Homo sapiens: one gene and its partners. The protein of the gene in region 3 purifies or fractionates together with the protein of the main gene of each other region. This does not show direct contact. Each region holds a gene or a part of one and is shown on either strand. Other genes may lie near its edges.

Evidence for each region. Proteins that work in one complex are often made in the same cells at the same time.
Region 1: the proteins of ACAA2 (region 3) and PGD fractionate together in Homo sapiens (co-fractionation; 3 studies listed by BioGRID). This does not show direct contact.
Region 2: the proteins of ACAA2 (region 3) and PREPL purify together in Homo sapiens (affinity purification with mass spectrometry; 3 studies listed by BioGRID and IntAct, with this or other methods). This does not show direct contact.

The regions. Positions count from the first base shown.
Region 1 is NC_000001.11:10,408,653-10,416,295, forward strand, and holds part of PGD (6-phosphogluconate dehydrogenase, decarboxylating), read left to right. Parts: intron 1-2,765; coding exon 2,766-2,900; intron 2,901-4,409; coding exon 4,410-4,599; intron 4,600-7,643. UniProt on the Homo sapiens protein: Catalyzes the oxidative decarboxylation of 6-phosphogluconate to ribulose 5-phosphate and CO(2), with concomitant reduction of NADP to NADPH.
Region 2 is NC_000002.12:44,337,263-44,344,905, forward strand, and holds part of PREPL (prolyl endopeptidase-like), read right to left. Parts: intron 7,325-7,643; coding exon 7,258-7,324; intron 6,690-7,257; coding exon 6,483-6,689; intron 5,291-6,482; coding exon 5,155-5,290; intron 2,102-5,154; coding exon 1,885-2,101; intron 1,275-1,884; coding exon 1,089-1,274; intron 1-1,088. UniProt on the Homo sapiens protein: Serine peptidase whose precise substrate specificity remains unclear. Does not cleave peptides after a arginine or lysine residue. Regulates trans-Golgi network morphology and sorting by regulating the membrane binding of the AP-1 complex.
Region 3 is NC_000018.10:49,796,270-49,803,912, forward strand, and holds part of ACAA2 (3-ketoacyl-CoA thiolase, mitochondrial), read right to left. Parts: intron 6,585-7,643; coding exon 6,418-6,584; intron 1,326-6,417; coding exon 1,197-1,325; intron 1-1,196. UniProt on the Homo sapiens protein: In the production of energy from fats, this is one of the enzymes that catalyzes the last step of the mitochondrial beta-oxidation pathway, an aerobic process breaking down fatty acids into acetyl-CoA.

The DNA.
Region 1 (7,643 bases), on a different chromosome or scaffold from region 3:
GTTCATAGTACAGTGGTGCGATCTTGGCTCACCGCAACCTCCACCTCCCAGGCTCAAGCAATCCTCCTGCCTCAGCCTCCTGAGTAGCTGGGACTGCAGGTGCATGCCACCACGCCTAGCTAATATTTGTATTTTTTGTAGAGACGGGGTTTCACCATGTCACCCAGGCTGGTCTCAAACTCCTGGACTCTCAAGTCATCTGCCTGCCTTGGCCTCACAAAGTGCTGAGGTTACAGGCATGCGCCACCATGCCCGGCCTCGTGTTGCTGTTAAAGTAAACTTTATCTCATATTGTAGTTCAGCCATGCTGTGGATGGAAAAAAGCATTAGGCTCAGGAGACCTGAGTGGCAGTTCTGGCTTTCCATAAACTTAACTGTGACATCAGGCAAGCCACGTCCCTTCATGGACTTCAGTTTCCTTATCTGTAAGATATGGGGTTGGATTACATGATCTCCAAGCTCTCTTCAGCTCCTGATTCCCTTTAATTTTATATCAGCAATTTTAATGTGAATTTTATTATTCAATTTTATTTTATATGAAATCAATGCTGAGGTTGAAATAAGGACTCAGGCCTTTGAGGAATCCGGGAAGCCCTCCCTCCTAGGCCTGCCAGTGCTTGGTGGCTTTGGCCACAGCAGCTCACTTGTCCTTACCTTTTCACCAGTGGTTGGCCATTGAGCTCAGTCAGAATCTGCTTAGGGTAGAAAGAGGCTGGTGCTGGGACTGACGTAAAGAGCTGAGTAATCTTCTCATTAGTGTGAAGGATTGGAAAGGGACCTCTGTTCCCTGACAGTAGATTACTGCGGTAAAAGGCCGGGTGTAGTGGCTCGTGCTTATAATCCAGTATTTTGGGAGGATCCCTTGAGCCCACGAGTTCAAGGCTGCAGTGAGCAGTGATCATACTACTGCACTCTGGCCTGGGTAACAGAGAGAGACCCTGTCTCTTAAACAGAAAAAAACAAAAAGATCACTGCAATAAAAGTGAGTGGTAGCAACTTTTTTTTTTTTTTTTTTTTTTTTTTGAGACAGTCTTGCTTTATCGTCCAGGCTGGAGTGCAGTGGCATAATCTCAGCTCACTGCAACTTCCGCCTCCTGGGTTCAAGCGATTCTCATGCCTCAGCCTCCATTGTAGCTGGGATTACAGGCATGTGCCACCATGCCTGGCTAATTTTTGTATTTTTGGTAGAGATGGGGTTTCACCATGTTGCCCAAGCTGGTCTTAAACTCCTGACTTCAAGTAATCGGCCCACCTTGGCCTCCCAAAGTGTTGGGATTATAGGCGTGAGCCACCGCACCCAGCCTGCAACTTTTTTTTAGATACACACACTTAGGACAAAGTCATGAAGAGAAGCACAGTCCTTGCCCCTACGTGTGTTGATCAAGCAGGCCCTCCTTAGTTCATGGCTGAAGTGGCAGGAAGGGTAAGGTGAAGTAAGATGTTAGCAGCCATGTTACTCTGTGGCCAGAGTGTCAAAATCAGAAGTCAGCAGGGGCAGCAATAGAAACATGGACAAGGCCAGGCGTGGTGGCTCATGCCTGGAATCCCAGCACTGTGAGAGGCTGAGGTGAGTGGATCACCTGAGGTCAGGAGTTTGAGACCAGCCTGGCCAACATGGTGAAACTCCATGTCTACAAAAATTAGCTGAGTGTGGCGGTGTGCTCCTGTAATCCCAGCTCATCAGGAGGCTGAGGCGTTAGAATTGCTTGAACCCAGGAGGCAGGTGTTGTGCTGAGCCAAGATCACACCGCTGCACTCCAGCCTGGGCGACAGAGCGAGACTCCGTTTCAAAAAAAAAAAAGAAACACGGACAATGGAGTCCTGATGTGAGCGTCAGTTATACAACTGACGGTCCAGGTGGTGACAGCCAGGAGAGAGACTGCCCAGGTCATCCAAACACCTGGCCTCCTGGGCAGGTGTGTCCCTGTCATGGAGCTGGGTGTAGATGACTGAGAGTTTGATGCCATGAACTGTTTGGCTCTCGTCACTCCCTTTGTTCCAGTTCTTGACAACTAAATAATTTTCGGATAATCTGGCTTCCCAGTTGCTTGTCTATAGGGCCAGAATGTGTTGACCGGACTAACATTTGTAACCACGAAGATCCATAGTTAAGGTTTTCATCCTACATTCATTAACGGGTATTCTGATTTTATACATCTTGCCAGCTTATAAATAAAGATCTGGTCTTTATTTATAAATATAAATATAAATATAAATATAATGATGGGGCCTTGGAGGGACTCCTTTCTGGGCTTACAAGGTTGAGACCTTGGATCTAGGGTCATTTTACTTTTCAGTAGCCATTAGGAACAACTACAATACATTTATATTTTGAAAAAAAACAAGTGATTTAATTGGCCAATATATTTTAACCTCTAGTTGCTAGAAAAGTGGTAACTTTGGGAAAAAGAGGACTTTTTTTCTTGTGGGTGGGGGCTGGGAAGGTGGGGAGTTGCTTTGAATGATGAGAAAGAGTAGAAAATACAGGCTAGAGAGCCATAAGTATTGAAAGTGAATTCAGGGACTTTGAGAAACCTTGAGAAGAATGAGTCTAGAATTAGTGTTAAATAATATTGTACTGGACTGAAGCTTGCTTTGAATTGCTATATGATTCTTGTATCAAAAATGCTGTACTCATTTTATACTTGTTATTTTTTGTGTGGAGAGGTAGCCTTGCCAGGGATGTTGGCATGAAAGCTGATGTGGACTTCTCTGATGTGTCGCCTGTTTCTCTGAAGGCCTCTTGGTGCTTGTTGTCCTGACAGGTGGGAGATGAGGGAGCAGGCCACTTCGTGAAGATGGTGCACAACGGGATAGAGTATGGGGACATGCAGCTGATCTGTGAGGCATACCACCTGATGAAAGACGTGCTGGGCATGGCGCAGGACGAGATGGCCCAGGTGAGGCCCCGGCACTGCCTCTGTGTCCGTTCTGCAGGGAGTGCTCACTTTGCCACAGACACCGAATCTTTTCTTCATTCCTATCCCCTTGGCCATTCGGGTGGCCTGCATGGACTCAGCCTAATTTGAGGGAAACTGTTAGTAATAGGCCTATACACTATGCTAGTCAGTCACTAAGCAGAAAGTCCCCACAGAGTCTGGGTGGTTATCATCACCACCATTTAGCGTAGCTTACCTGGTGTCAGGCACTGTGTCACTCCACATACCTGTCCCATTTACTCCCACAGTTGTCCCACATGGCAGATGCAGCAGAAGCTTTCTTTCCTGATCAAGTTGGGATTGGCTTTTTGATAGTTAATCTGAAAAGTCAGTCCAAGTAGGGAAGCTGAAGCATTTCCCCCAACATTTTATTATGACAATATTCAACCATGCAGCACAGAAGTTTGAGAGTTTTACAGTGAACACCTGGATACACACCTCCTCCTTTCTCCCATCCACAGGTTCCTGTACTTGCTTTAGCAATGTCTGTCCATCCCCCACCAATTTCATCTTATTTTTTGGATACATTCAAAGTAAACTGCAGGTATCCATACTTTTGTTTTCCCTAAATACTTTAGATGAATGTATCTTTATCATGAGGTAAACATAGATTTTAACTGAAAACATAGGAAAGGACTTTCATTCACCCGCCATTTTTTGGAGGGCCAAGGCCTTCTCGTTAAGTATGGTTTGCTGATGCGCTTTCTAGTCGTGTCTTACCATCTAGAATTTCTAGTTTCAGTTATTTCCAATGGGATGTGATTTACAGACTCTAGCAAGGCATACAGTATAGCTTTCCAGATTTTTTGTTGTTTTCCTCCTAGTTTTTTATTCATGTCATCCTCACTTACTTTGACTATTGTTTGTTTCACTGGATTGCTGTTAATTGTTCTTTCTAAAACATTACCTTAGTTTTCTTTCACAGAAACAGTGCTATTCTTTTTGTGTTCATTTTTTATTGGTATATATAATACTTAACGTGTTCACTCAGCAAACACACGAGTGCTTTACTATATGCCAAGCATGATTCTAAATGCTGGGGATATACTAGTGAAGAAAGCAAAGTGCCTGCCCTCCCGGAGCTGGGAAGACAGACAGAAATAAATATACAATATCAAACTAGTTAGCGATGACTGTGAGAACGAAGAGTAAACTGGGACAAGATCCGGTGATTGCAGAAGGCTTCTGAGGAGGCGACACTGCACAGAGACCTAAGTGAAGTGAGGAGCCCTTGCCTCTGAGGAGACAACACTTCTGGTGGCCAGAAATTCAGTATAACCAGGTTCAGAACAAACACAACTGACTCTGGGTTAGCATAAAACTCAACCAGCAGGAGCAGAAGTCCCCAGGCAGACGCGAGCAGAGCCTGCTGGCAACCGTGAGCATTGGTCAGCGTGGACATTGGACAAGGGGCTTCCTTGCTCAGCCCTCATTCCTCTAACATGGTTCTCTCCTGTGTTCTGCATGTAGGCCTTTGAGGATTGGAATAAGACAGAGCTAGACTCATTCCTGATTGAAATCACAGCCAATATTCTCAAGTTCCAAGACACCGATGGCAAACACCTGCTGCCAAAGATCAGGGACAGCGCGGGGCAGAAGGGCACAGGGAAGTGGACCGCCATCTCCGCCCTGGAATACGGCGTACCCGTCACCCTCATTGGTAATGTTATGCTTTTCACATGGGCCCTTTCGTCCACTATTCTGATCTTGATGTCTGGAGGACAGATACAGACTGGTCTTTAGAGAATCTCTTCAGCCCTCTTTAGCTTTCAGAGTGCCTTTTGCTCTTTCTTGCGTTGAAGAAACTGACAGTGTGAGAGAGGCTGACGCTGCTTTTGATTCTCTTCCTTGTAGTTCTTATCTCATTCGTACAAACTGTGAGGTAAATTCAGAAGTGACTGTCCTTCCTATCCAGTTTTATCTTTGGAATATTTTAGCATTAGTGATGTAATTGTAGTCAGTGATCTAAGATTTTATTTATGAGGCAGGTAACTTGAGTAAAATTTTTCATAGAAAAGTTCATGAATAACAGGGCCGGGCACAGTGGTTCACGCCTGTAATGCCAGCACTTTGGGAGGCCGAGGCGGGTGGATCATGAGGTCAGGAGATTGAGACCATCCTGGCTAACATGATGAAACCCTGTTTCTACTAAAAATACAAAAAATTAGCCAGGTGTGGTGGCACGTGCCTGTAGTCCCAGCCACTCAGGAGGCTGAGGCAGGAGAATTGCTTGAACCTGGGAGGCAGAGTTTGCAGTGAGCTGAGATGGCACCACTGCACTCCAGCCTGGGTGACAGAGCGAGACTTCGTCTCAAAAAAAAAAAAAAATTAGCAGGTGCCTGTAATCCCAGCTACTCAGGAGGTTGAGCCATGAGAATCGCTTGAACCCAGGAGGCAGAGGTTGCAGTGAGCCAAGATCATGCCACTGCACTCCAGCCTGGGCAACAGAATGAGACTCCATCCCCTCCAAAAAAAGTTTGCGAATAACATATGCTTGTGTACTCAGAAATTATTAAAAATTTACTTTTTTCCCCTAGATATTAAAAAGATAAAAATTACCTATCCATTTGAGTCCTCGTTGTTTTGCTAAGTTCCTTCTCCTTCCTCTTTTAGAAGAAAGCCACTATCCTGAAGTTGGTGTGTATCCTGCCCACTTGTTTTATATCTTACATTAGTGAGCTAAGCATCAAACTCAGAAAGATAAGGAAATAATATAAAGAAATAAACATAAAACGAGAGGGGATTAACAATATCAAAATCTTGGCCGGGGGGGTGGTTTTCAGTGTGTTTGTTTGTTTTTTGAGACGGTGTTGTGCTCTGTCACCCAGGCTGGAGTTCAGTGGCATGATCTCGGGTCACTGCAACCTCCACCTCCCGGGTTCAAGTGATTCTCCTGCCTCAGCCTCCCGAGTAGCTGGGATTACAGGCATGCGCTACCATGCCTGGCTAATTTTTGTGTGTTATTAGTGGAGACGGGGTTTTACCATATTGGTCAGGCTGGTCTCGAACTCCTAACCTCAGGGGATCTGCCCGCCTCGGCTTCCAAAAGTGCTGGGATTGCAGGCGTGAGCCACCATGCCCAGCAAAGGTGGTTCTAAGAGTAAAATACATAGACTTCTGGCAGGAATGAAAAAGGAGAACGAAGGATGCCTCTCGTGGTTAATGAGAGGCTGATCTTTGCTTCTGGCAGATTGTTCTCACTATATTAAAACAGAATTGGGCCAGGCGCGGTGGCTCACGCCTGTAATCCCAGCACTTTGGGTGACCGAGGTGGGCGGATCACGAGGTCAGGAGTTTGAGTCCAGCCTGACCAACATGGCGAAACCCCATCTCTACTAAAAATACGAAAGTTAGCCAGGCATAGTGACCCGTGCCTGTAATCCCAGCTACTCAGGAGGCTGAGGCAGGAGAATCACTTGAACCTGGGAGGCGGAATTTGCAGTGGGCTGAGATCGCACCACTGCACTCCAGGCTGGGCGACCGAGCAAGACTCCGCCTAAAAAAAAAAAAAGAAGCATCTCAAAAATAATAAAACAGAATTTTTCCTGTTTGCTCCTCTGGATACAGGTTGCCTTTCTCTCCCTTGACTCTTCTCCCCTTTTGACCTCCCTGTTCATTGTGCCTCGCCCTATTGAACTGTGTGGTGTAAGGCAGAGTAAGGAGGAAAGTCGGTGGTTTCTACAGTTCCGTGCTGTATAGAAGGAAGTTGGCTGCTTTTAGCCGATCTGAGCCATAACATAGGTGAGGAGGGAGGGGCCAATAGCTAGGAGCAATTTATTCATCACGGACTCAAGTATATGTGTAAGTATTAGGATCTCAGAATCCTACTCTCCTCCTGTGGATCCATATACCTCTTCCCCCAGGGTGGCTGGGCCCACCCCCTGCTGGGAGCCATCATTATTTGTGAACTAACAGGGAAGTCTTCCAGCTGCCCTCTCCCCCTCTAACAGGAAGGGTTTGCCTCATAGCCTGTTGCACCAGTCATCTTACAAAGCTTCCTTCTAGAAATGCTAAGTCATCCTGTGTGTGCATTTGGGCCAGGAGAGAGGTAGCTGCTTTTGTGTGTTTGGAGTAGGGTTAGCAGTCTCAAGCCATAGCTGCTCCTCTTTCCTCAGAAATAAAGTCCTCTGTTAGTTCCCTGAGATTTTACTTCATTTTGTCTATGGGGGAAAAAGTGGTTAAAGAGTCATTTATTCTAACTATAAGTTGTCAGTTGAGCAAGTCTTTTATAAGGAATACTTTCTGAAAATACTAAATGTCTTAATATTAAAATACTACATTGACTTTTTAATTCAAATGAAGTAAAGTGGTTAAACTTGAATGATTACGGCTATACTGAAAACCGTAAAATATAAAAACCTAACATTTTTTTGAGAGGTGAGTCCGTAAATGTGACTTATCAATGTAAAATCTTCAAAAAAAAAAATTAAGGTCCTCTAAATTGAATTTGAAATTTTACTCATGGACCAACACTGAGTATTCTACATAACAGTGGTTTTTATTTTATTTTACTGGTTTTAGAGACAGGGTCTCACTGTGTTGCCCAGGCTGGAGAGCAGTGGTGTGATCATGGCTCACTGTAGCCTTGAACTCCTGGGCTCAAGTGATCCTCCCACCTCAGCCTGCCAAAGTGCTGGGATTACAGGTGTTAGCCACCTTGCCCAGCCATAACAGTGGTTTCTATCTCTTCATTTTCCCTCAAAA
Region 2 (7,643 bases), on a different chromosome or scaffold from region 3:
CACATTCAACCAACTTTACCAAAAGCTTTCCTGGGCCTTCTTCTCTAGTTTGAGCCCCACAGCACATTTTATGTTTTTGATACTACTTATTCAAATCCATGATACACTTAACCTTTATGTACTAGTTTAATCTTGTGATTAACTATATCTTCCTTAAGGCTAGGATATTCTGCTTTAACAGCTTTCGATTCTATAATGCCCGATACAGTATTGTGCACATGAAAGTTCAATAAAAAGCCACTGAATTGACTGAAATTGCATTTTTACAGGAGTTTTAAGAATATTGGAGTTAGGGAGGTATAAATGGTCTATGCTGTTTGCTCATCAACTGGCTCAGTAACTCTTTTCATATCAAACAAAATGGAAGCCATCCTCTTCCCTTCAGTGCCTACTACCTCAACTCACATGTTAATGCTGCTTTAAAACTAGGCAATAAGGTTGTCATTCACCAATTTTAGGAAGTTCACTTGTGAAGGCAGGTTATCTTTCCTGGTAGCCACAAGCAGTATCAACTAGTCAGCTTGCCAAGCAGTCTTGCCACTATTAGCCTTCTGTGCTGCTGTGGAGACCACTGCTACTCCTACACTGAAAGAAACCAAAGTTTGTTCCCTGCATCCCCTGCGGATAAGAAAACTGGCAGACAGAAGATGATGCAGACAAAAGCATGTAGTGGCTAAAAACACAGTGGATACCACTACTGTCCCTGTTGGGGATGTGGGATGGGGGAACAGCAGTCAGTGTTTAGGCACTAGCTACCAACTTTGGCCTGAGTTTTTACTATATCTCAAGTTGCAGAGATATGTGAGGTAGAGAGATATACAGAAAGAGAAATATTAGCACTCAACTCTACTTGTGAAGTCCATGCCATAAGACACTATCTTAAGTAAAACTGCATAAAAAGCAAGATCCTCTAAGTAATTCTAAGATAACCCTCCTAAACCCAAGAGTGACTTTGCTAAATTCCATTTAAGTTACATTCCTTTCAAGAAAAAGAACACTGCTGCCACTATTCAAAATGTGATGTTCTGTTAAGCTAAACTGCATAAATATTTTGATTAACAGTATTAACTTCTGAAAATTAAACATACCTTTAGAGACCGAACTGAATCATCAGCCAGACCAATCACATTAACATAAAGGAGATTGCTGTGCTTCAGAAATAGAACACAGTGATCCTTAAACATGTCCAAGTCTATCACTTTTGTATTTCTCTTCATTGTAAAAAATAAATCCCAATTCATAATTGCAGGGGTATCAGCCGCTGTTCTCATTAGCTACGTGGAACAAAGTTAGAAGACATATAGGTAAGAAAACACGAAGGCTGCAGCATCCAGAGATGCAATCACTGAGAACTAGACCATACTAGTCCTCACTGTTTTATGAAGAGCTGAAGGAACTAACGCTGCATCAGGGATAAAGTGTGACCATCAACCATATGAATGAGTCCTGACTAGCCTGCTGGGTGGTGAGACAGTATATCCAGTGCTTAGCCAACCACTGGACATTTGAGTGAGGGCACTGACAGCTAGCTGACTACAGATACATCAGTGAGCTTAGCTGATATCAGCAGAAGAACTGCCTAGCTGAGATCAATCCAAATTGCCAACTCATAAAATCACGAGTTTGTAAGTTTGCTCTTTTAAGCTACTAAGTTTGATTTTGTTAACATAAACTCAGGACAGAATATGTTTTATTTACTAACTTTTTAGGCACAATTAAAATATGTAGAGGCATTAGCTCTAAGGGAAAAGAAATGGGATTGGTTATACATAGGAAGGTGGCATCAATTTATAAAACAATGAGCTCTTGGAGCAAGAAATGTTGTTGATCGAAGTGTGACACTTCTTAACAGCCCAAATAGGAACAACGAGCATCCAGGATTACCTTAAATTCTGTAGGTTCTCCAACATTAGTGAGAATGTATAATTCATCATCTCTGTGTTCAACATAGTAAAGGACCCCATGTATTCGCTTCTGGATAAGTACTGGTGGGTCCCAAGGGCTCAGGCCATCTATCAACCACACTTCAGAAGTAGTCTTGTTCATAATATTTATGGTGAGGAAACGACTGTCTTTTGTAAGATAAAGGAAAACAAAGTAGCTAGAGAGAGAGAGAGAGACATGAGATCACAGTTTATTTCAGATGCATGCTACCTTGTTAAGGACAGTATCTCAGAGGTGGTCAGTATACATGTTGATTTATAATGCAGATAGGAAATTAAAATAATTCCTTAGTGAATATCACTTGTAACTTTAACAATTAGCTATTATTTTTCTCATTTTCTCCTAAAGGGCATTCAAAATAATTTACTTCTAACATTTTATCATAAATGTTTTTCAAAAATACAGAAAAGTTGAAAAAACCATCTTGATTCCATCATTGCTAACATTTTGCTACATTTACTTTATTACATATCTATGCACCTATTAATCCATCTTTATTTGGATGCATTTCAAGGTAAACTACAAACGTCATTTCTCAATCACATGAGTAGATAACATAGCTTTTTGCTGAGAAGAGGAAATAAACTTTCTATAGGAGACACAAATAGGGAATAAAAGGGACACGGAGTTATTTTTATTTTCTTCTTTCTCTGCATGCATTTTGGATTTTTTTTTCCTTTCTCCCAGTTTTTACAACAAAATAGAATAGGAAGAAAACCCCTCACAATCTTACTAACGTAACACATTTAAAACATTAACATAGCTATTTTACTTTTTAAATTTTTCCTTCTAAGTTATATTTATATTTCATGTGTGTCTTTAAATAGATGTAATTATAGATACAATTTTTGATTCTGTATTTCTTACTTCATATATCAATTTTCTCCCTACATGAGTTGAAAGTCTTTGTGATTATTATTTTTAAAGGCTACCTAATATTATAACAGGTTTAATGGCTACCTAATATATCATAATTCTTAAAAATTTAGATTTTAATGTTTCATTATAATAAACAATATAACAAGAAACATATTCATGAAGATATTTTCCCCTTCCATGATCTTCACAATTATTTTCCCAAGACAAATTTTTAGAAATGGAAATACTAATTTAATAAGTGTATTTTTATGACTTGATGAATATAATCAAATAATATCCTAGAAGCACTATACTAACATAATGAGTGGCTTTAAATGTTATATTTATATTTTTCCTTATTATAAAAGTAATTTATACTGAAACTACTGAAAAACGTAAAGAATCCCAATGCCCCCAAATAACAACTGCTTATAGTTTGGTAAAATTTCTTCTGTATTGGATCACATTACCATGTTTATTTGTCAATCGTTATTTCTTTTGTGAAATGTGTGTCTATTTTAAACTTTGAATGTAGCTTAAATTATTAGTATGTAAATAGCTCTTTAAAAATTAAGAATATTGGCTGGGCACAGTGGCTCACAACTGTAATCCCAGCACTCTGGGAGGCCAAAGCTGGCAGATCACCTGAGATCAGGAGTTCAAGACCACCCTGGCCAACATGGTGAAACCCCGTCTCCACAAAAAATACAAAAATTAGCCAGGCATGGTGGCAGGTGCCTGTAATCCCAGCTACTTGGGAGGCTGAGGTAGAAGAATCACTTGAACCTGGGACGCAGAGGTTGCAGTGAGCTGAGATTGCGCCACTGCACTCCAGTCTGGGTGACAGAGTGAGACTCTGTTTCAAAAAAAAAAAAAAAAAATTAAGAACATTAACTTGTCTTTTTGTTGAAAACACTTTCCTCCATTTTGTTACCTAGATTTTAACTATTTACAATAGTTTTTGTGGTTTTTGACTTGAGTTTAATATTTTACGTAATCGAGACTGCTACTACCCTTTGTAATTTCTTATATTGATTTTATGTTTCAAAAATATTCCAACCAAGCTGACTAAAAAGCTTATATTTTCATCTTATTAAAAAATTATTTTTCTCAATGGGTTCTTTAAATCTCTTAGGAATGTATGCTGACATATACAATGATGAAAATTATTTTTTCCCAAATAGTATTTCCCATTGCATTATAAAATAACACCGATTCATTTTTCATTAGTTTGTGATGCCTTTTATCATATAAATTTTCACATAGACTAGGATCTATGTTTTAGAGTTATTCTAAGCTCTATTATTTGTCTATCAATTTGTATTATTTTTACTGTTATTGCTTTATATGCTTTAATATATAATTGTAGGGCAAGTCCCCTACCCTACTTTGCTCTTTATTTTCAACACTTTCTTCGCTGTTTTTATATATTTTTGTTTGCTTAGTTTGGTGATGACAAATTAAAAATAAACTACTTGACCAAATAGTTGTTAGATATGTGGTTACAGGAAGTGAGAACACAAGTGGCTCTAGGGTAAAATGTGTCTAAGAGAATATACGAAATATAAAGAACTAGACATTAATCTTTTTTTCCAATTATTTCTATCGACAATTATTTTTAAATTTAAAATGTATTATAAAAATAATAATGCTTATTACAAAAAGAAAAAAAGAAAAGTAAAAAAAAAACCATTGTTAGTACTTTGGGTGTATTTCCTTTCAATCTTTTAAAAATGCATCTTTTTTCCTTGATACCCAATTGAAACCATAGCATATATTTAATTTTTTCACCTAGCACAATAATACATTTTTGAGTTAGTTTTAATTTATAATTTAGTAGCAACACATACTTTAAATTCTTCTATATATTACTAAGAATTTAATGGTTAAAAGGTACTCAACAATCATCAGGAACAAGGGGTTTTAGTTTGAAAGAGAGATACCTATCTAAGTATATACCATTTATTTAAGCAATAGATACTGACTAAATAGCACTATACAAACCTGGCACCCTGCTTATCAATTAAGATGCAAAGGTGAAACAGACTCAGTCTGTTCACAATCTAGCAGTTCTAGGTCATCTTTATGAATTTACATGAATGAACTATGTTGTAATTCACAAAATCAATTTCAGTTTTTAATAAAATATTAGTGATATATCTGTATTTACTCTGATTTTGAATATTACCAGACTCCAATTTTGAATACAAACAACTAATAAAAGAATGATCGTTTTAGCCTTATTATTCCTGGTTCCAACCAAAATAAACGTTTTAAGTCAACCAAAGTCAGTACTTTAAATAACTGGAGGAAGGTTCTGGAGAGAAAGATTTAATTATATTATTCTAGTACCTTGGGTCTTTTTCTGTGTAAAAGCGTTCATTACGTTTGTTATCACCAAAAGTGGCTCGATATACGTCATGACAGCGAAGGTTCCTCTGGAAGGTGTAGAATAAAACATCTTCATCTTCCTCGTCCTTTACCCATTCTGAAAGAAAATAATGAGATAATTATACATAATCACCTACACTCCATTAAAAAAAAAAAAAAAGCACAGCACATTCTAATTTTGAATGCCAGTGAGAACATGTGCAAGTTTATCCCTGGAAATCTAAATATTTGACTGTATCTAATCTGTGCTGTATATAAGCCAGAGAGCTTTCCTGAGAATAAACCACTACTACACCATTCCAAGGTTTCAAGTAGTTATCAGTCTCAGGGTACTCAGGTTTCTAAATAAGAGCTAAATGCTCAATATTTAGGAAAGACATTGGTAAAGTCACATTTGCTTTTAGGAGGTGAATTCCGTCTCAATCTACAACTTGAAACTGTAAGTCTGAAGGAATATTGCATCTTTCTCTCATGTGTAAACCTTCTCTGTCTGCTTTCAAGCCACAGGATATCTCCAACTACCAAACACAATTTAATGCTGATTCTTGATCCCACCAGAAGCTGTCAACAGAAGTTTGCACACAATTACACCATGACTGCCACCTGGCTGACAGTGATTGTAAGTCATCATTGTATAATATGCACCATGATTTTAAAGGTTATAAAATGTACAAAATATATGTCTTAGAATTCAATAGTTAGGGTATAATTTCAATTCACTGCAACAACATTTAGTTAAACAATGGAGAAAATGATGGCTGAAAATGAAAAGGGAGGACAAAATGTAACATATGTACCACTCAATGATAAATTTAAAGTTAGTTCTATTACTAAAAATGTCACAGCTTCCATTGATAAACAGGTTAGTTCAACACATACCAAGTTCTTTGGTAGTGACTTTATGCTGTAACAGCTCTATAAGATAACATGAAATTAAAAAAATACATTCAAGCTTAAAGTTGAATAAAATATTAAGATGCAACTTACGTGTAAAAATTTATTCTAGATAATAATTTGGCAAATAATTCTGATAAATCAAAACATATTGTATGACATGGACTCTAATTATAACACTTTTAAAAACATGAGTATTTTAAAATTACCCATCTAGATATATAATTAAATAAGGGAAGGTCTCCTGAATAAGAGGTACATAGGAAGATGTATAGTCCATAGGGATACATGAATCAGGCATTCACCTTCTCCCTCCCTCACATGCGACAAAAAAATGTTTCAAAAGTGTTACCGTTGCCTTTCAACACAGAGGACTATTTTGGTTGGTGGCTTACCAAAACTGGACACATTCGGGAAAGAAGCTTCCATTACGGGCTGATCGCTGAGCTTTATAATTACACAGGTAGATGCTTCAGAATCTTCAGTTCTTATCTTGGCAGCCACATATTTTTCATCTGGAGCAACTCTGATACAATCAATGAAGGGCTGGTCTAACTTAAGTTCCTCCAAATTGAATAAAACTTCATAATTATCATTGTCTGCTGTATAAAGAAAAATACGAAAGTGATAACTTCAAAGGATGTACTTTAAAAAATTAAAACTGTATTTTAATGTTTTAAATTAGAATTCCCATTCTGTAAGAGGCCATATCCTAGCTTCTTTCAACAATGATGGCAGCTTAACTTGCACATCAACTGACAATAAGTTATTTAATATTACCTTATACTATTCAATACTATTCTGTGCATCAACCTATGAGACATTATTTGATATTGTTATAGTCTAGTTTAGTATTTACAGACCATACAGAACCTAGAAAGTAAGTGAATATAAATGACAATCAACAATATATGCCAAGTGCCTAGCATAGTACCCAAGACACAGCAGATGCTCAAAAAATGCTGGATGCCGTCTCCATTCTCCCTGCCAAAGCTTCTGAGTCTAACTATATCTTACACAAACCCAGATATTAAAAACTAGTCATTAAAAAAAAATTCAGAAATAATCTTTAAAAAAATCTTTTCTCTATCTTTGAGAAATTAATAAATTTCCTATAAAAAATATGAAATCTGAAAATTAGAGCACGTAAAAAGAAAAATTGTGGTGTACCTTCTTCATCTTTGGAACGAACCAAGCAACAACCTTCTTGGTAATAAACAAAACCACCATGTTTAACCTGACAAAAGAAACATGCAGTTTACTTAATAATAATTTAATTAACCTTTTCATAGTCTGACTATTCAAGATGAAGATGAAATGAAGACTCTTATAAAAAACAGACCTGTTGAAGTATATGAATGAACACATATGAAATATAAAATTGACCATTTTTACAATGTAGTTGATAAGATATGGTTTTCGTATGTTCATAACCACTAGAGGGGTTTTTAATACATAAATACAAGAGGCAATAAAGAAAAGGTATAACAAAATCTGTCAGTTCTCACAACTGTACAAACCACTTCTGCTACATTTTAGAAACATCTGATACCTGT
Region 3 (7,643 bases):
CTGAACAAGAACAGAGATTTACAAGAACTAGTTCAATCTAGGTGACTCATAAAAAGGAAACCACTTCATTCTTCCAACACTTTCCACTGTTTGCCTTTCTCAGAAAAGGAGCAAATAATGAGCCTCTATGAACCTGATGGTTCTTAAAATTATTACTAGGAAAACCGAGGTCACTATTTAAGATATATCGTTATAGAAACAAATTAATGTGAAAATTGTTTTATTAAAATACGCCTCTGGCTCTTATTTTGTTTGTAATAAAATGAAGACTTTTACAAATGAAATTGGATTTCACTTTCTTCTCTGTGCTCAAAGAAACAAATGTATTTAACCAACTGTCCTTTAAAAAGGTCAAACTAGTTTGTACTTCTACTAACAGCATCATTCACTTCCTTTGAAATAAAATACATTTCCTTATCCTCTCCTAAATTCTTGAGATTTCCTGCTTGCCTCACGGTCTTTATTCAGTGCCTCACAGGTAACACTCACAGACCTGGGTTCAAATTCTATGACTGAGTAACCTTAATGGCTTTAATCAGTTTCCTTGCCTGTAAAATGGGAATAATAATAATAGTTCTTGCTTCATAGGATGGTTGTAAGATTAAATGAGATATTGAATGTAAATCTAGCAGGGTGCCTAGCATGTAGGAAGCACTCGAAAGAATGATGAACATACTAGCTTTTAAAAATATTGAAGTATATATATATATATAATACTTACCATTTTAACCATTTTTAAGTATACAGCTCAGTAGTTTAAGTGTATTCATAGTGTGATGCAACCATTACCATCACCCATCTCCAGAACGCTTTTCATCTTGCAAAACTGAAACTCCATATCCATTAAACACTAACTTTCCCTCACCAGTCCCTGGGAACACCATTCTACTTTCTGTCTCTATGAATTTGACTACGCTAGGTATCTCAAAGAAGTAGAAACATACAGTATTTGTCCTTTTATGACAGGCTTATTCCACTTTCAGGTTCATTATTAGCTTTTTTTTTTTTTTCTTTTTTTTGGAGCCAAGGTCTCACTCTGTTGCCCATGGCTGGAGTGCAGTGGTATGATCATGGTTTACTTGACCTCCAGGGCTCAAGCAATCCTCCCTAAAGCTAAAGTGTTATATTGCAGTGGGACATTTCTTCTAGTAACTATTAACATATTTTCAGAGAATTTAAAAAAATGTTGTCCATACCTGACATCCATTCACAATGGACTGAAAACCAGAACCACAGAGCCTATTAATCGTGAGAGCTGGGGTCTCCTTTGGGATTCCCACACGCAAACCAACATGCCTTGCCAAATATATAGCATCTGAAGAACTCTAGAAGAGAGAAGGAAAAGAAAAATAATTTTCTCTATAAATCTACTAATTAAGAACAAGCACGAAATACATGGAAATGTTGGCAATCTATCAAAAATGATAAACTATATGGCTCTAAGGTAGGACAAAATGCATCTAAGTACAGCATATTATATCTAATATGTGTTTACAATTTGAATAAAAACTACAGTCAATTGGGTTTTTTTCTATTTTTTTATTGGGGCAAAATACACATAACAAAATGTATCATTGTAACCATTTTTAAGTGTATAGTTCAATGGTATTATTTAAATACATTCATAATGTTGTGTAACCACAGTCAATTGGTTTTCAAATATATTAAAGATAATTGCTACTTAGAGAAATCCCATTAAGTCCTTAATATAAGACAGAAATTTATAACAATTAGAGTTATTTAAAAATGGAATACGCTATCCTAAAGTAGTATGCTCCTTAACAGAGGAAGTATCGGAGGCTGTGGTTCTCAACCTTGGTTGCAGGCTGGAATAACCTAGGAAGCTTTATTAACATACTCATGCTTAAGTTCCTAAGCAAATCAATTAAACCAGAAAGGCTGGAGGTGGGGCCTGGGCATCAGTAGTCACTTTTAAAAAGCATCCCAAGTAATTCTAATGTAAAACAGGCTGAGGACTGCATACTTAGGGAGAAGACAGATGAATGATTGGTCAGGAGAGTAAGAGGTAGGAGTAGACCACCACTCCCAAAACTTTAAAATGCATATGGGGGCGTCTTGTTATAATAAAATGTAAGTTCTGAATCAACAGGTCTAGGTCTGCCGGAGATTCTGCATTTCTAACCATTTCCCTGGTGAAGCTGATGTTGCTAGTCCAAGAACCACACTTTGAATAAAAAGAATGACTTAAAAAAAAAAAACCAACAACAACCAAAAACATTAACAGCCTGTTTTGGAGGCTGTTAGCAAGAGCAAAAGCAAGTTTGACAAAATGTAAAACATTGGTCTATCAAGGTACGGGGTTTTAGGATGTTCATTGTACTATTCTTTTAACTTTTGTGTAGGTTTCAAGTTTTTCAAAACTTGACAAATTCGGCACATTTATAAGTTAAGGGTTTTGAATGCAGATGGAACTGGGAGGAACTCAGTATAACATCAATTAATCTACTAACTAAATGTTTCATCTGTTGACTGAGATGAAATTATCTTATTTTACAAATTAATGTCATTAAAAAAATTCTTGGCCAATGGATATTCTTTTGCCAAGGTTTGTCAAATATCACATATCAACAGAATAAAAAAAATTTACACGATCATCTCGTGTAAATTATTAACAGATAAATATTTGGGGTTAGGCCTTTATGGTTAAGAGAGAACAGAATATGCTTCGAATAACATTTGACAAATACCACAAAGCTGCTTTTCTAATTGAGTTTAATATTATTAAATATCACTTGGAATAAATGAGTTTTACTTATTTCTTAGGAAACAATGAAATCCAATGTGGATTTCAACACAAAAAGTCAACAGAAAAAGTATTTGACAAAATACAACACCCTTTCATGACAAAAACACTGAACAAACTAGGAACAGATGGCAACTTTCTCAATCTGACAAAGGGAATCTATAAAAAATCCACAGCTCTCCCTCTCCCCCTCCTCCTCCCCCTCTCCCCACGGTCTCCCTCTGATGCCTAGCTGAAGCTGGACTGTACTGCTGCCATCTCGGCTCACTGCAACCTCCCTGCCTGATTCTCCTGCCTCAGCCTGCTGAGTGCCTGCGATTGCAGGCACGCGCCGCCACGCCTGACTGGTTTTCGTATTTTTTTGGTGGAGACGGGGTTTCGCTGTGTTGGCCTGGCTGGTCTCCAGCTCCTAACCGCGAGTGATCCGCCAGCCTCGGCCTCCCGGGGTGCTGGGATTGCGGACGGAGTCTTGTTCACTCAGTGCTCAATAGTGCCCAGGCTGGAGTGCAGTGGCGTGATCTCTGCTCGCTACAACCTCCACCTCCCAGCCGCCTGCCTTGGCCTCCCAAAGTGCCGAGATTGCAGCCTCTGCCCGGCTGCCACCCCGTCTGGGAAGTGAGGAGCGTCTCTGCCTGGCCACCCATCGTCTGGGATGTGGGGAGCCCCTCTGCCTGGCTGCCCAGTCTGGAAAGTGAGGAGCGTCTCTGCCTGGCCGCCATCCCATCTAGGAAGTGAGGGGCGCCTCTTCCCAGCCGCCATCCCGTCTAGGAGGTGAGGAGCGTCTCTGCCCGGCCGCCCATCATCTGGGATGTGGGGAGCGCCTCTGCCCGGCCGCGACCCCATCTGGGAGGTGAGGAGCGTCTCTGCCCGGCTGCCCCATCTGAGAAGTGAGGAGACCCTCTGCCCGGCAACCGCCCCGTCTAAGTGAGGAGCCCCTCCGCCCGGCAGCCACCCCATCTGAGAAGTGAGGAGCCCCTCCGCCTGGCAGCCACCCTGTCTGGGAAGTGAGGAGCGTCTCCGCCCGGCAACCACGCCATCCGGGAGGGAGGTGGGGGTCAGCCCCCACCAGGCCAGCCGCCCCGTCCGGGAGGGAGGTGGGGGTCAGCCCCCGGCCGGCCAGCCACCCCGTCTGGGAGGGAGGTGGGGGGTCAGCCCCCCGCCCGGCCAGCCGCCCCGTCCGGGAGGTGGGGGGGTCAGCCCCCCGCCCGGCCAGCCGCCCCGTCCGGGAGGGAGGGAGGTGGGGGGGTCAGCCCCCCGCCCGGCCAGCCGCCCCGTCCGGGAGGTGAGGGGCGCCTCTGCCCGGCTGCCCCTACTGGGAAGTGAGGAGCCCCTCTGCCCGGCCACCACCCCGTCTGGGAGGTGTGCCCAGCAGCTCATGGAGAACGGGCCATGATGACCGTGGCGGTTTTGTGGAGTAGAAAGGGGGGAAAGGTGGGGAAGGGATTGAGAAATCGGATGGTTGCCGTGTCTGTGTGGAAAGAAGTAGACATGGGAGACTTTTCATTTTGTTTTGTACTAAGAAAAATTCTTCTGCCTTGGGATCCTGTTGATCTGTGACCTTACCCCCAACCCCGTGCTCTCTGAAACATGTGCTGTGTCCACTCAAGGTTAAATGGATTAAGGGCGGTGCAAGATGTGCTTTGTTAAACAGATGCTTGAAAGGCAGCATGCTTGTTAAGAGTCATCACCACTCCCTAATCTCAAGTACCCAGGGACACAAACACTGCAGAAGGCCGCAGGGTCCTCTGCCTAGGAAAACCAGAGACCTTTGTTCACTTGTTTGTCTGCTGACCTTCCCTCCACTATTGTCCTGTGGGCCAAATCCCCCTCTGCGAGAAACACCCAAGAATGATCAATAAAAAAAAAAAAAAAAAAATCCACAGCTATCATCATATGTAAAGTTGAAAGGCCAGATGCTTTCCCCCTATAATCAGGAATAAGACAAAGATATCCATTTCTTATAACTTCTATTCAACATTGGAGATTCTAGCCAGGGCAATTAGGGAAGAAAAAGAAATAAAAAGAATCCACATTGGATTTCATTGTTTCCTATGAAATAAGTAAAACTCATTTATTCCAAGTGATATTTAATAATATAAAACTCAATTAGAAAAGCAGCTTTGTGGTATTTGTCAAATGTTATTCGAAGCATATTCTGTTCTCTCTTAACCATAAAGGCCTAACCCCAAATATTTATGTTAAGCACTTAACATCCTTACAAGAAAACTCTATCTTGGCCTGACAGAAAACTTAACACAAGAAAAACTGTCTTTAGGAACAGAGGCACAAACACAATGAAACTGATACTATTTATAGTGACTTTGTGTTATAAAGTTTGAGAGAATACATGCTGGGAAAAAAATATTTTTCCTTCAAAATTCTAGAAAACGCAAAAAACGGAAGTATCCAATTTCTATTCAATCTGTTCTAATGCCTTCTTAGGTCAGAGGTAAAAGTTACAAAATAAAATAAAAAGAACAAAAGACAATATTGAGAATTCTTTATGAAAATATTTTAGGTTCAACAGACATAACTGCCAAAGGAAAAAAGTCACTGCTTTTTCTGGATGTGAAGATACACAACGGCAAGATGAACAGCATCAAGTTCAAATGCAAGGCCTAGTGACTTCTGTGTCCATTGTCATTCTCTTTCCTTTAGCAATGATCACATCATTGACATCTTTAAATATATGTATCATATATATATTTGTGTGTGTATATATGATACATAAGATATATCACAGAAACTGATCATATATATATATATATATATATATATATATCTTATCTTTTTCATTAGATTATTACCTCCTTTTGGTCCACCTTGGGTGCCATAGCACCTATAATAGCCTCTAACTAGGTATCCAACAAATGTTTGTATACTTTAAAGGAATTCTGAATTTTCAATTACCTGCATATGAATGATTGATTTTGTACATCACACATAGCAAGACAGAGGGTAAGGAAGCATCTTATTTCTTACAACAAACACTGATCAAGCTCCTACAATGTGTAAGAAAATTAGGGGAGGTGTGCTGTAATGGCTTGGGTTTACTAAGGTGGCATATAGAGAAGATCAATTAACTTCAAGTAAGCCAAGGAAGTCAATCTGCTATTTAGGAAGCACTGAAATGCATCCCAAGTCAGACATACAGTTTCTAGAACATATGATGCTTTGAATTATGCATGCTGTTGATTCTGGAGTCACAGAATTACTCAAATTACAAACGTATAAAGTCTGTAACTATTGGCTGGGAGTGGTGGCTCACGCCTGTCATCCCAGCACTTTGGGGGGCCGAGACAGGAGAATCACGAGGTCAAGAGATCGAGACCATCCTGGCCAATGTGGTAAAACCCTGTCTCTATTAAAAACACAAAAATTAGCTGGGCTTGGTGGCACACGCCTGTAATCCCAGCTACTCGGGAGGCTGAGGCAGGAGAATTGCTTGAACCCGGGAGGCGGAAGTTGCAGCGAGCCAAGATCGCACCACCATACTCCAGCCTGGCGGCAGAGCGAGACTCCATCTCAAAAAAAAAAAAAAAAAGTCTATAACTATTATTAACTTGTTTACCATTATGATATGTTAAAGGAATTATTTTTAGAAACTGATCAAAGAAGCAATAGGAGTGAACACCTTCCTTTACTCTACTAACCTGCAGGACATTGCCCATAATCACACTGTCAACTGTTTCAGGTGAGACTTTGCCAGCAGACAAGGCAGCCTTGGCAGCAAATTCAGACAAGTCAGTAGCAGTGAAGTCTTTCAGAAGGCCTCCGTAAGCTCCAAAGGGCGTTCGCTTAGCAGCAACTACAAACACACCTATTGCAACAAGAAGAGATTTGTAAGCCATCACAGGTTAGTAAATACCTCTAAATGCTTCGAATAATCTCACTGTGAAACCTTACACAATTTAAAATTAGATAATGGAAATTTCTGTTAGGCAATAATACCTAGAACAAGTCATACCCATGGAAGCAGAGTCTTAAGGACTACCAGTTTGACAGTTTGATCTTTACCTACATGCAGGTACCAAGAACTGCACTGCATGCTGTTAAGGAAGAAGACCACCACTTCTCCTGCGCACCCCGCCCCCCTTGCCTAGTTTATAAAACAGGAGGAAAAGAAAAAAGCAAAAAGTTAAAAAGAAACAGAAGTAAGATAAATAGCCAGATGGCCTGGTGCCACCACCCGGCCCTGGTAGTTAAAATAATAATAATAATAATAATAATAATAATAATAATAATAATATCAATCCCTGACCTAAACTACTTGTGTTATCTGTAATTTCCAGACATTGTATGAAAAAGCATTGCAAAACTTTCTGCTCTGTAAGCTAATGCATGTAGCCCCCAGTCACGTTCCCCACACTTGCTTGATCTATCACCATCCTTTCAGGTGGACCCCTTAGAGTTGTAAGCCCTTAAAAGGGCCAAGAATTTCTTTTTGAGGGAGCTCGGCTCTTAAGACGCAAGTTGGTGGATGCTCCAAGCCAAATAAAGCCTCTTCCTTCTTTAATCCAGTGTCTGAGGAGTTTTGACTGTGGCTCGTCCTGCTACACTGTGATGTAAAGCCATTCTGGTTAGACAACTTTCTTGTTCTCTGATGCTTCACAATGCTAGAAACATATGTTGAGAACTAAAATCCTTCTTCTATGTGCTGGAGTATATTGCCTAGTATTAGAATAAAAGAATCTCCAAACTAGAAGGTGCCTTAGGGTTGTCTGAGGTCAACCACTCACTCTATAAGAACTACCTCTAAAAATTCCTGACAAAAGGTTCTCTCTAAACCTCTGCCAGGAAACTTTCAGTAAGAGGGCATACTCTACTGCATGAAACAGTGTGCTGGTCATGGACAACATAAACTAATGATATTGCTTTT